Homo sapiens: one gene and its partner. The protein of the gene in region 1 purifies or fractionates together with the protein of each later gene. This does not show direct contact. Each region holds a gene or a part of one and is shown on either strand. Other genes may lie near its edges.

Region 1 (5,544 bases):
GAAAACCTTGAGGGCTCTGGTTTTCCCTCAAGGGGAGAAGAGTGCTAGCCACATAGCAAATGCTAATTATCCCATGATTAATGTGATGGAGTGAGTTTAATGTGATGACCCATGCGTTATTTTGATTACAAAAAAACATTTTTTATTGACTTGGTATGTATTACATACACTTTTCTCCCTATTAGGAAGCCCATCTAAATTATACTCTGGAAGGAAGGTCTCACTTACATGGCTTTCCCTATAGAGACAGTGTGGGCTTGTGTGGGCCCCATCCCAAAAGGGAGGATTAGCAGAACCGTCAATGTTAAATATCCTCCACAAAGCACATTTACCTATTATAAGGAAACAAATGTTAGAGGCCCACATCATTTGACTCTTGATGGGTATGCAATGTTAGCACAATCCAATGTTACTGTAGGCTGTCCCTCCACCCAGCACCTGGCCTCGTAGTCAAAATGGGCCTGAGCAGAAGGTGCACTCCACATTCCATCTGCTCAGGATTTTCAGTTTCACCTGCTCCATACACATAGCTGGAAATAACCAACTGGACTGTCTCAGGTCTGGTTCGAGAGGGCAGGGACCTAACCATCCCCAGTTCTTCAAGGAGGTAACACTTCCTGTTTAAACACCATCACATTAATAACAGCCAGCATTTACTGAGTACTCACTGTATGCCATTGTTTGCCAGGGTTCTGTGCTAAGAACTTTACACATGTCAGTTCCAGACTCCTCAGCACATCCATCTGAGACAGCTACTATTGTTTTCCCTGTTTTGCAGGTAATACAATCAGACAGAGAGGGCAAGTAACTTGCTCAAGATCTCACAGCTAGCAGGTGGCAGAGCAAATCCATCCTGATTTAGAGCTAGTATCTGTGCCTAGGATACCATTGCTGTCTCATGTGCCGCTGCTTGGTAGATGGTCTTATGAGAGGGCAGCAGAAAGGAGACAGTGTTAGGCCCCCTCACATTCCCTTCTTAATTTCTCCAGGTGTGGCACTATGCAAAATTCAAACAGCAAGTTCAGAAGCAACAGCTAAGTGGAGTGGACAGGAAGCTGGGTGATGGAAACTTGTGGCTGAAATATTCATATCATAATTAAATGCCAATATATCCCACCTCCAACTCTGACTCTAAGAACTGTGATGGATAGAGGCTTATGGGAAAGAACCTGTTGGCTGGGTACAGTGTTGTCCTTTGGAAACTAGGTGCAGTTTAGCTGTTGTTTCCCTAACCTGCAGAAAGAGATCCTGGATTTCCTACTGTGTGGCCTTCCTCACTTCCAATGGGCAGCTGTTGTGGATAGAGGTTAAATGTACCTACAGATGAGTCTTCATGCCCTTGGGGCCACTCCAACATACCAGCTGGTGTAAATTTTGGAAAAATGCCCTGATACTCTGGGCGGTGCTGCATTGGCCAAGGGGAGGAGTTTAGGAGGCAGGAGAAAGATGGTCATTAGGAAGCCAATCATACCTTCATTGCCCACTCCTGGGGTAAGGTGACAGTCCCAAACTCATCTTATTTTTTGAGGACTCTTCCTCTTTATTCACCTTTGCTCTGTGTCTCTAAGCATCAGCCCCCGCCCCCCGACTCCTTTGAAAACGAAACATGGTGCAGAAAAAGGCCCTTTCTTTCCACCCGAGAAGGTTCACTGAGGTTTTCCCAGAGCATTCTTCCACAGTTGTAACCCAAAGTGGAGTGTCACCCGGATATTTCCCCAAGCCTGGGCAGGAGTGAGCAGAATGTGAGCTCACTAGGAAGATTCTGGCCAAGCTGGGGAATGCATCTCCTTTTAGGGAGTATTGTGAATTAGATCCATTTCTGCACCCTGCTGTTGCAATGGAGCCGACTGTGAAAGGGAAGATTCTCAGAGGAGCTGTGTTTTAATGTAGCAATTTGATTCAATTTTCCACTCTATAAAATTACCCATCACTGCTCGTTGCTTTCTAACAGACACCTTCACTCTTAATTTAACAATCCTATCGAATTCTGCCAGGGAAATTGGAAAAATTTATCACCTGTGAAATTTTATTTTCCTTTGGTTGTATCTGTTTTTGTAAAACTTCATTAACGACGATGACTTGCTGAGGAAATTATCATTTTTTTTAACGTCAGACACAAGAAATGGCTCGACCTCAACCAAGATATCATTTGCATAATAAAACACAACAAAAAGGCTGGAGAAGTCGGGACTGGTAGAGGCTGGAAGTGCTAGGAGAAGAAGCAGGCTCTCCTTGGAGGGTGGGTGAAGTCCCCAGCAGGGCAGGGACATGTGGTCACAGTCCTGCCACTTGACTCAGGAAGCAAAGACGTAGCTTCTTCCCCAGGAAGAGATGAATGCAGTGTGGAGAGGGTTGGACGCTCTTCTTAGGAAGCCTTGAAATGCAAGTTGCCTACTGATGATGCTTTCAGCAACCAGCCCTGTCTTCAGGGACTTGAGTGTTAGATTCACCTTAGCTCTTAGGTTCATCTGGGATTGAGGTTCATCTGGGTTCATCTGGGATCTAAATTGTTATAAATTTAGGCTTAACTTGAATTTCTCAGCAGAGCACTGAACTCCTGGCAAATTTCCATAGGAATGATCTTTCTGAATGGACTTGAAGATTAGCGTTCCTGTGGTCTAACTACTTCACAATTAAAAGGCTCAGGCTTTGGTTCTCCACTGTCTGACCCCCACTGAGCTTTGCACCATTCACCAGCTGCTGTTATCCCCACCAGACATGGCTATGCAGAAGCAGTGATGACTATACATTTTTTGAGATGCTAGTTTTCATGCCTTTGGAAGAAAGGAAATATATTGAGTAGACCTGCTGTAATGATGAGCAGATAAAACATGTTAGGGTTATTTTTAAGAGATGTGATTTGATTCATGGTATATCTGAACTAGGTAATAATGAGTTGTTCTCTATCAAGGTTTACTATCAAGGTTTGGTCTATCAAGGTATTACTAGAAAGGTTGGTCAGCATTTGCATATTTCAGAGTTTTGAAATCCTTCATAATTTTGAAGCGATTTTCCATTATTCTCACAACTACACACCAAAAAGTTGAAACTAGAGAATTTTGATGACTCATTCCAAAACTCACAATAAACCAATAAAAACCAACGTAAGTATTGTTGACTCTTTAACCTGGTGGACACATGTAAAAAGTTACTTCACATGGCATGGATAGAAGACACTCATTAATCAAATTCTTCTTGCTCCCAGAGCAAGGCAGAGCCTCATTACCCACTTCCCTACAATCTCATAAAGCGTCCCACATTATCTCCTTCAGAGGATGAGGGTTAGATTTGGCTTCCTTTGGAATTTTCAAAGTTATTATTCTTCCACCAGGTCATGAATTTCTGAAACTAGCATAAGATAATCAGAGGACAAAATTTCTCACCTGGCAAGACTTCATAAATATCTTCTTCTTCTTTCTCCTCTGTAGGCTCTTTTATCCCCACACTCCCAGGCAAGATAGTGGGTCTGCACTGGGAACCACAACTTGGGGAGTCAAAACCATCAATATCATCATATGTCTCTTCTTTTTCTTCTTCCTCCTCATCCTCTTCATATGGAATGGTTAAGGAGCTCAGATCTAACAAGGCAAAGATGAGAATGAATCAAGAAACAGAGAAAAAGAAAATAAGACAGGAAAGGAAAGAGGGAGAAGGAGGAGGAGGGATGAGAGTAAAATATGTCAAATGAAAATGAAACATTAGGTTAAATGCTATTATTTCTAATGTGGGCTTTGGTGGCAGGAAATCTACAGAAAAGGCCAGAATAGCACTGCATCAGGTTTAAACCATCAACATAAATCCTTCCTTGCAATAAAACTTGATCAGAGTGAAGCAGCCTGAAAAGTATGGGTGTGTGAATGAGAACATGAGGCAAAGGGAAGAAAATAGGCCAGAAGAGGAAAAGCCAGTGTGCTGTACACAGCTTATCACGTAGAAAACTGGAAGGGTGAGTGAAGGCTTGCAGTCCTCCAGGGTACTCAGGCCGTGGGAGCTAAGGTGGCCTCTGTAGGGTGCTGGAGCTGTCAGAAGCTTATCTCCCCAGTGATTTCACTGCAGAATTTCAGACAAGTTTGTTCGCAGAGAAAAAAATGGGCAACAGTGGAAGATAAAAAGAAACGGGGTATGGAAAAATATAACAGTAATACAAGACCAAATGGAATGGCTGAACAATGCAGTTACCATGTCCTTTTGCAACTGCACAGTCTAGCTGACCTTAAAGTGGGTCACTGCATAGAAGGTGTTGAGCCATTACAGCACTGGGGAGCACCAGGGCAGGGGAGGGAGATTGGTTTTTTATTTTAATGGGGAACTGAGAATGTTCATTCTCTGATGTGTACTACAGAGTGCTCTCTGAAACCCTGCTGAGGGCCCTCTGCAGGATGGGTGAGTGCAGTCAGCATACTCTGGGGAAGGAAAGGATGGAGAGACGTCCAACTTTCATTTCAAAATGCAATAAAATTGTTTGGCTTGATTAGCCTTTTAATAAAGATTTTGCAACAATTTTCATCTGAATTTTGGTGCCACCACATACGAGGAAAAGATCAAAAACACATTTGTGGCTTAAACCATATGTTATTATTTTGTTTTAAAATAAAATGGAATGAATAATTTCTTCAATGTGGGATTCTGAAAGTACCACAGGGTACAGCTCAATAAAGCTGCTTTGAGTTTTATTGAGGTTTACACACTTAGGGGTATATTACACGCATAAATCCAAGGCACCTAGATGAGAGTGTACCCTGTAGTCTCGCCATCAATGTTCATGTTTGCCTAGTTCCAGTCTATTATACGTGACGCTGTTGGTAGATGCAATAGTTTGCTTTTGTGATAGCAAAGGCATAACTGAGTAAAACAGGCAATTCTTGTAATTAAAGCACTGGTGCTTCCTTCTTTTTATCCACAATAAAATCTTATAGCAGAATAAAAATCTGAGATGAAAAGGCTTTGCGTTTTTAGCTTGACGTGTGTCTTTCTAGGTCTTGGGCCATGTATAAAGTTGGTGTTTCTGCCTTTCTGCAGAACAGAGGTAGGGTCCTGCCATGATGGTAGGTGACAATTATATAATACCGAGTGACTAACTCAAGGTTGGCTTATTCTACCTGACAGACCACTCCCAGATAAGGCTTCCCTGGCCATTGTTTCTGCTTTGCCTACAGGCTGGCCAGCAGAGGGTACTCTAAGAGCAGTCATTTACCATCTTCAGGCAGGACTCTTCCCATCCCAAAGCAAGGAACATCTTATTGTGGCTTGGGAAATAACAGTTTGTTTTTAATGTCCAATGTCCCTGAAGACCATCTAGATTGGTTTAGATTTCTACTTCCTCCTAAGACTAAAATAAGGAGATTTTGAACCTCAATTGCAACTAGATGACTTTAAGTTGGATATTATGAATTTCCTTTCCAGAATATAAGGGGTTAGGAGACACCGAATTGGGCTGAGCTGATTTTTAGAATCTCCTTTTCTAGTGATTTTGAATATTACAGACTTGCCTGTAGGTAGGTGGATGAGCTATGATACCAGAGGTCCTCCCAAGGTTGATACTGT
Region 2 (5,051 bases), on another chromosome or scaffold:
GGTGTCATGAAGGACAGTAGTGGAATTCATTCTGGAAATGGAGGCTTTGGCTAGGATGGGGCATCTTGAAGACCAAGGTAAGAATTAGATTTTATTCAGTAGACACTGATCACCCTTGATGGTTTTAAGCTATGAAGAGACGTTATTTATTGTAGGAATATGTCAGGAAGTAATGCGGGATTGAATCTGTATGTGTACATCTGTATTTGTGCATAGGTAGTAATTTTCTTCATGTAGCTGTTATATCAGTGGAATCCTGTATAGTGTATAAACACAAGTTAAGGCAAAAACTGCTCTATTGGTATACTGGTAGGTAGAAATGTGAAATGAATTAGTTTCCTAACTCAAGAGAAGAAAAAAATCTTGCCTCTGGGCTTAAAAGGAAAATAAAAATGTCAATCTAAAAATACTTTTGTCCTTTAATATATTTGTTTAAAAAATCAACAGAATAGTCTCACTTTTTTCTCAAAAACCAGATTAAACATTTAGGTTTTCTGAGGAGGGGTTAGGTTAATTGAGGTTTAATTTATATACAATAAAATTCATCCTCTTTAAATGTTCATTTGAAGAGTCCTGAAACTATCACCACAGTCAAGTATAGACTGTTTCCATCACTTCATATAAAAAGTTCTGTCAGGCCCTCCTACCCCTGGTTACTGACCGCTGCAAATCAGTTTTCTGTCACTAATATTTTACCTTTTCTAGAATGTCATATAAATCTAGCTCCTTAAGGGCAGGGCCCCCAGGTATTGTTCATCTTTCTGTCTTGTATCTGTATTTCCTGTAAGTGGAAGCTAGACCTTAAGGGTTTATTAGGTGTTCATTAGAAAATTTTTTAGCAAGAATATTGTATATGGCGCTGGGTACTGCATGTTGCATCCCATCCAGAGGTTGTGAGGTTGTCTCACTATTTAATATGTTAAATCTGATTACTTGGGTAAGACGGTACCTACTAGATTTCATCTCTGTAAATGTATGCTTTTTCCATTTGTAAAGAACAAGTAATCACAGGGTAAAAATTTGAGCACATTGTGAATGCCTTTTACCTAATGCTTTTAGCATTCTTTGATAATCCTTGTCTGAGTCAATAATTTCATTAGGGGTTGCAAAATGATGAATTAAAAAATAATTCTGTTATTTCTTCTATGTTTATTAGCTGGTACTCTTCTGCAAAGAAGAGTTGGCCTTCACTGACTGTCAGTGAAATGTAGTTTCTCCTAATCCAGCAGCATAAATGCTTAATTCTCTTCCCTCATTAGCCAAATTGGTGTAATAGTCCAGTGGTGGTGTGGCAGGTGCTGTGGTTAGGCTTTCAGATCCCGCTTTCAGGCACATGTTCCCCTAGCTCTTGGCAATATTGGCAGCTAAAACTGATTGCAGCTGAGTCCCACTCCACGCATTGCCCTGAGCCAAGAGTTGCCTCCCCCAGAGTCATGCCTCCTCTTCAGGGGCAGTTTACATCTAATATCTATACAGTGTAGGGATATAAATGCCTAGCGCTTTTGCTATAAGACAAGCCAACCTTGAAGTCTATCCCAACACCAGAGAGCTCTCCCATGGGTCTGGCTGAGGGCTTCCTGGGACTGCATTGCAGATCAACTCCTTCCTCTGTTCAGTCTTACGTCTTTCACTGCCCCACAGTTGTTGGTTCGGAGGGCACTCCGCAATAAACTTCCGGTGTGCACATCTGCATTTGAGAGTCTGTTTCCTGGGAACCCTCCTACCCAAAGCAGTTGGTGCCAGGAGTGGTCTCAGAAAGTAGACTTTACAGTGAGGTTTTGAAGCTGGATTATTGGCTGGCTGGCTGGCAATGAGAATCGATTCTGGTGCTAGATGGAGCACTAATACTGATAACGCTTGGCATGCACTGTAGCTATGCAACTTAAAACTTTCACTGGTGGTGAGTTGGAATGCTATTCCTGTTGAAGGGAATGCACTGGTGAGTGCACTAGGCTTTTGAGAAGTTCAGAGAAATTAATTATGAGGACAATCATCAGATGGCTTTTGGTAAATAACATTGATAGATTGGAGAAAGATGATGCAAGGTGGAAGATAATTGGGGGCAAAATGTAAAAGGAAATTTATTTAGCATCATGTAAAGAAACACATATACAGTAAGAGGAAAAATCTAAGGCTTCAACCCAAAACTTAATTTTAAGGGTAGCAGAGCACCAAGGTAGGTAGAATTCTCTCTCAGCTATGCTAAGGTCAGTGTTCTGGTTGGGCAGGAATCCTGACCCTTAGGATGGGGCATCTGAGTGCACTTGAAAACCCTGAAACCCCAAATTCCTCTTAACCCTCTGGGCCTGCAGAAGTGGCCTTCTTCTACTAGCTAGAGGGGTTGCTTGCAGACTGTGCTGTCCCTCTTACCCCCAGCTCCTCCTCTCTCGCCTACTGACTATCACCAAACCAACAACTAGGGTTAAGTCACAAGAACACCTAGTTCGGGGTGCTGGATCTGCGAAGGGAGGAAGGGACTGTACACACAAACACACACACACACACGTTCCCAAACTGCACCAAGGCACCCCAAAGCACCACCACAGACACAAAAGAATACCATGGGATATTTCAGAATTTTAAAGGAAACACAGCAATATCTGTCACAAATTACTAGCTTGAGGTAGTTCACGGTTTTGACATTAGCTCATGCCACATTTCTTTTGATGATGTCATATTTTTGCAGGGTTGGATTTTTACTAGTTGTGATACAGATCAAGCACTGTGCAAAAATCAGTGTGGAACAGGAAAGGAGGGTGGCATGTTCAGTCTGATTCCAAGTTTGAGAAGTTGTTCTGTGTCTAACAGGCACACATGTCATATTATCAAGTAATTGAAGTTTTTGTTTGTTTGTTTGTTTTGAGGCAGAGTCTCGCTCTGTCACCCAGGCCAGAGTGCAGTGGTGCGATCTCGGCTCACTGCAACCTCCGCCTGCCAGGTTCAAGTGATTCTTCTGCCTCAGCCTCCTGAGTAGTTGGGATTACAGGCGTGTCCCACCACACTCGGCTGATTTTTGTATTTTTACTAGAGGTGGGGTTTCACCATATTGGTCAGGCTGGTCTCGAACTCCTCACCTCGTGATCCGCCTGCCTCGTTCTCCCAAAGTGCTGGGATTACAGGCGTGAGCCACTGCGCCTGGCCCAGTATTTGTAGTTTTTAAGAAGGAAATAAAAATATTTTTCTTCCAATTTATGTGTTATTTTTTCAAATGTCTACTCATTTGTTAGGACATGAATTCTTGTTATTTGGATCTAACTACTTAATAAACACTACTGTTTGGTATTTCTTTTGGCCTATGAGTGCATGGAAAAATTACCGATGATGGCTGTGCATGGGCCCAATAAAAGGGTTTTCATTCACCAGTGCTGATCTAGCAACTGCTGCTGCTGAATATCCAGCCTGACAGCAGCAGAGATCAATCATCCTTCAAGCAGGCCAACCAGTCCTTATACAGTGGAAAGGACCATGATTCATTTTGATTGGATTTGAGACATATTCTGGGTCTGAATTTGTCTTTCCAGCAGGGTCTCACCCAGGACTACTGTTTGAGGGCTTGCAGGATGTTTGATCCTCTACTACAGGGATCATTTCAGAATAAGGGACCCACTGTTATGTTATGTTATGTTATGTTATGTTATGTTATGTTATGTTATGTTATGTTATGTTATGTTATGTTTTGAGACGGAGTCTTGCTCTGTTGCCCAAGCTGGAGTGCAATGGCGTGATCTCAGCTGACTGCAACCTCCGCCTCCCGGGTTCAAGCAGTTCTCCTACCTCAGCCTCCTGAGTTGCTGGGACTACAGGTGCACATCACCACGCCCAGCTAATTTTTGTGTTTTTAGTAGAGACGGGGTTTCACCATGTGGACCAGGATGGTCTCGAACTCCTGACCTCGTGATCCGGCCACGTCAGCCTCCCAAAGTGCTGGGATTACAGGCGTGAGCCACCGCGCCCGGCCGGGACCCACTTTTATAGAATAGGAGAATCATTTGTCCCATCTTGCACCACACCGTCCAGAAGCTGATGACTTGATAGAGCAGTAAAACAGTCCTTTGATGGCACAGCTGATGATGAGATCCTGCAGCTTGGGCATGATGCCCTGCAAGGGTGAGGCGCCCATTCTCCAGTGTTCCCAGTAGGAAGATCACATGAAATTAGGAGTGGCTCCGCATAGCATCACTCTGTGAATCACCTGGGCAGTTTCTGCTTCCCATCTCCATAGCTCTGATGGCAAGGGGTTAAAAGATCCTGGTTCTCAGAAGAGAAACATTTCCAACAGAGGGCGCTATGAGAATCCTGTTATACTTTAAAGTACAGCTGCCACTAGGATTTGGGGCTCCTTTTCTAAATAAAGAAGTCACCAGGCTGGGCACGATGGCTCACGCCTGTAATCCCAGCACTTTGGGAGGCCGAGATGAGTGGATCACGTGAAGTCAGGAGTTCGAAACCAGCTCAGCCAACATGGTGAGACCCTGTTTGTACTACAAATACAAAACAATTAGCCGGGCATGTTGGCGCGTGCTTGTAATCCCAGCTAATTGGGAGGCTGAGTCAGGAGAACTGCTTGAACCTGGGATGTGGAGGTTGCAGTGAGCCGAGATTGCGCCACTGCACTCCAGCCTGGGCAATAGAGCAAGACTCCATCTCAAAACAAAAAAAAAACAACAAAAAAAGAAGTCACCATTTGGACAGGGTTAATGTCCTTGTTCATGTGGAGGAGGTAGGGCTGTGTTCCACAGTGGAGCATGGAGGTTTGGCACACAGGTGATCTATAAGGTGTCTCTTGGTACTTCCTTGTCCAGTGTTTGTGGTAAATGGACACGAGAAAGGCCCAGTGACCACCCCATGAAGTCAGCCACCTGGACCAACAGAAATACTAGCCATAGATTAAAGGAATCTAGAATGGCTAGTAGAGAAGAGTTGTTGATATCAATTTTACCGTCTGTAGTGGCTGGGGCTGTGGTTTGACCCACTTTCCTTCCTCTGGAAAGTTTCTCCAGGAAATGACACTCACCAGAATTCTGGAGGAACTTTTTCCATGCCTTATTTGA

The links.
Region 2: the proteins of SKAP1 (region 1) and MYCBP2 purify together in Homo sapiens (affinity purification with mass spectrometry; 3 studies listed by BioGRID and IntAct, with this or other methods). This does not show direct contact.

What each region holds. Positions count from the first base shown.
Region 1 is NC_000017.11:48,176,671-48,182,214, forward strand, and holds part of SKAP1 (src kinase-associated phosphoprotein 1), read right to left. Parts: intron 3,579-5,544; coding exon 3,384-3,578; intron 1-3,383. UniProt on the Homo sapiens protein: Positively regulates T-cell receptor signaling by enhancing the MAP kinase pathway. Required for optimal conjugation between T-cells and antigen-presenting cells by promoting the clustering of integrin ITGAL on the surface of T-cells.
Region 2 is NC_000013.11:77,316,564-77,321,614, reverse strand, and holds part of MYCBP2 (E3 ubiquitin-protein ligase MYCBP2), read left to right. Parts: intron 1-5,051. UniProt on the Homo sapiens protein: Atypical E3 ubiquitin-protein ligase which specifically mediates ubiquitination of threonine and serine residues on target proteins, instead of ubiquitinating lysine residues.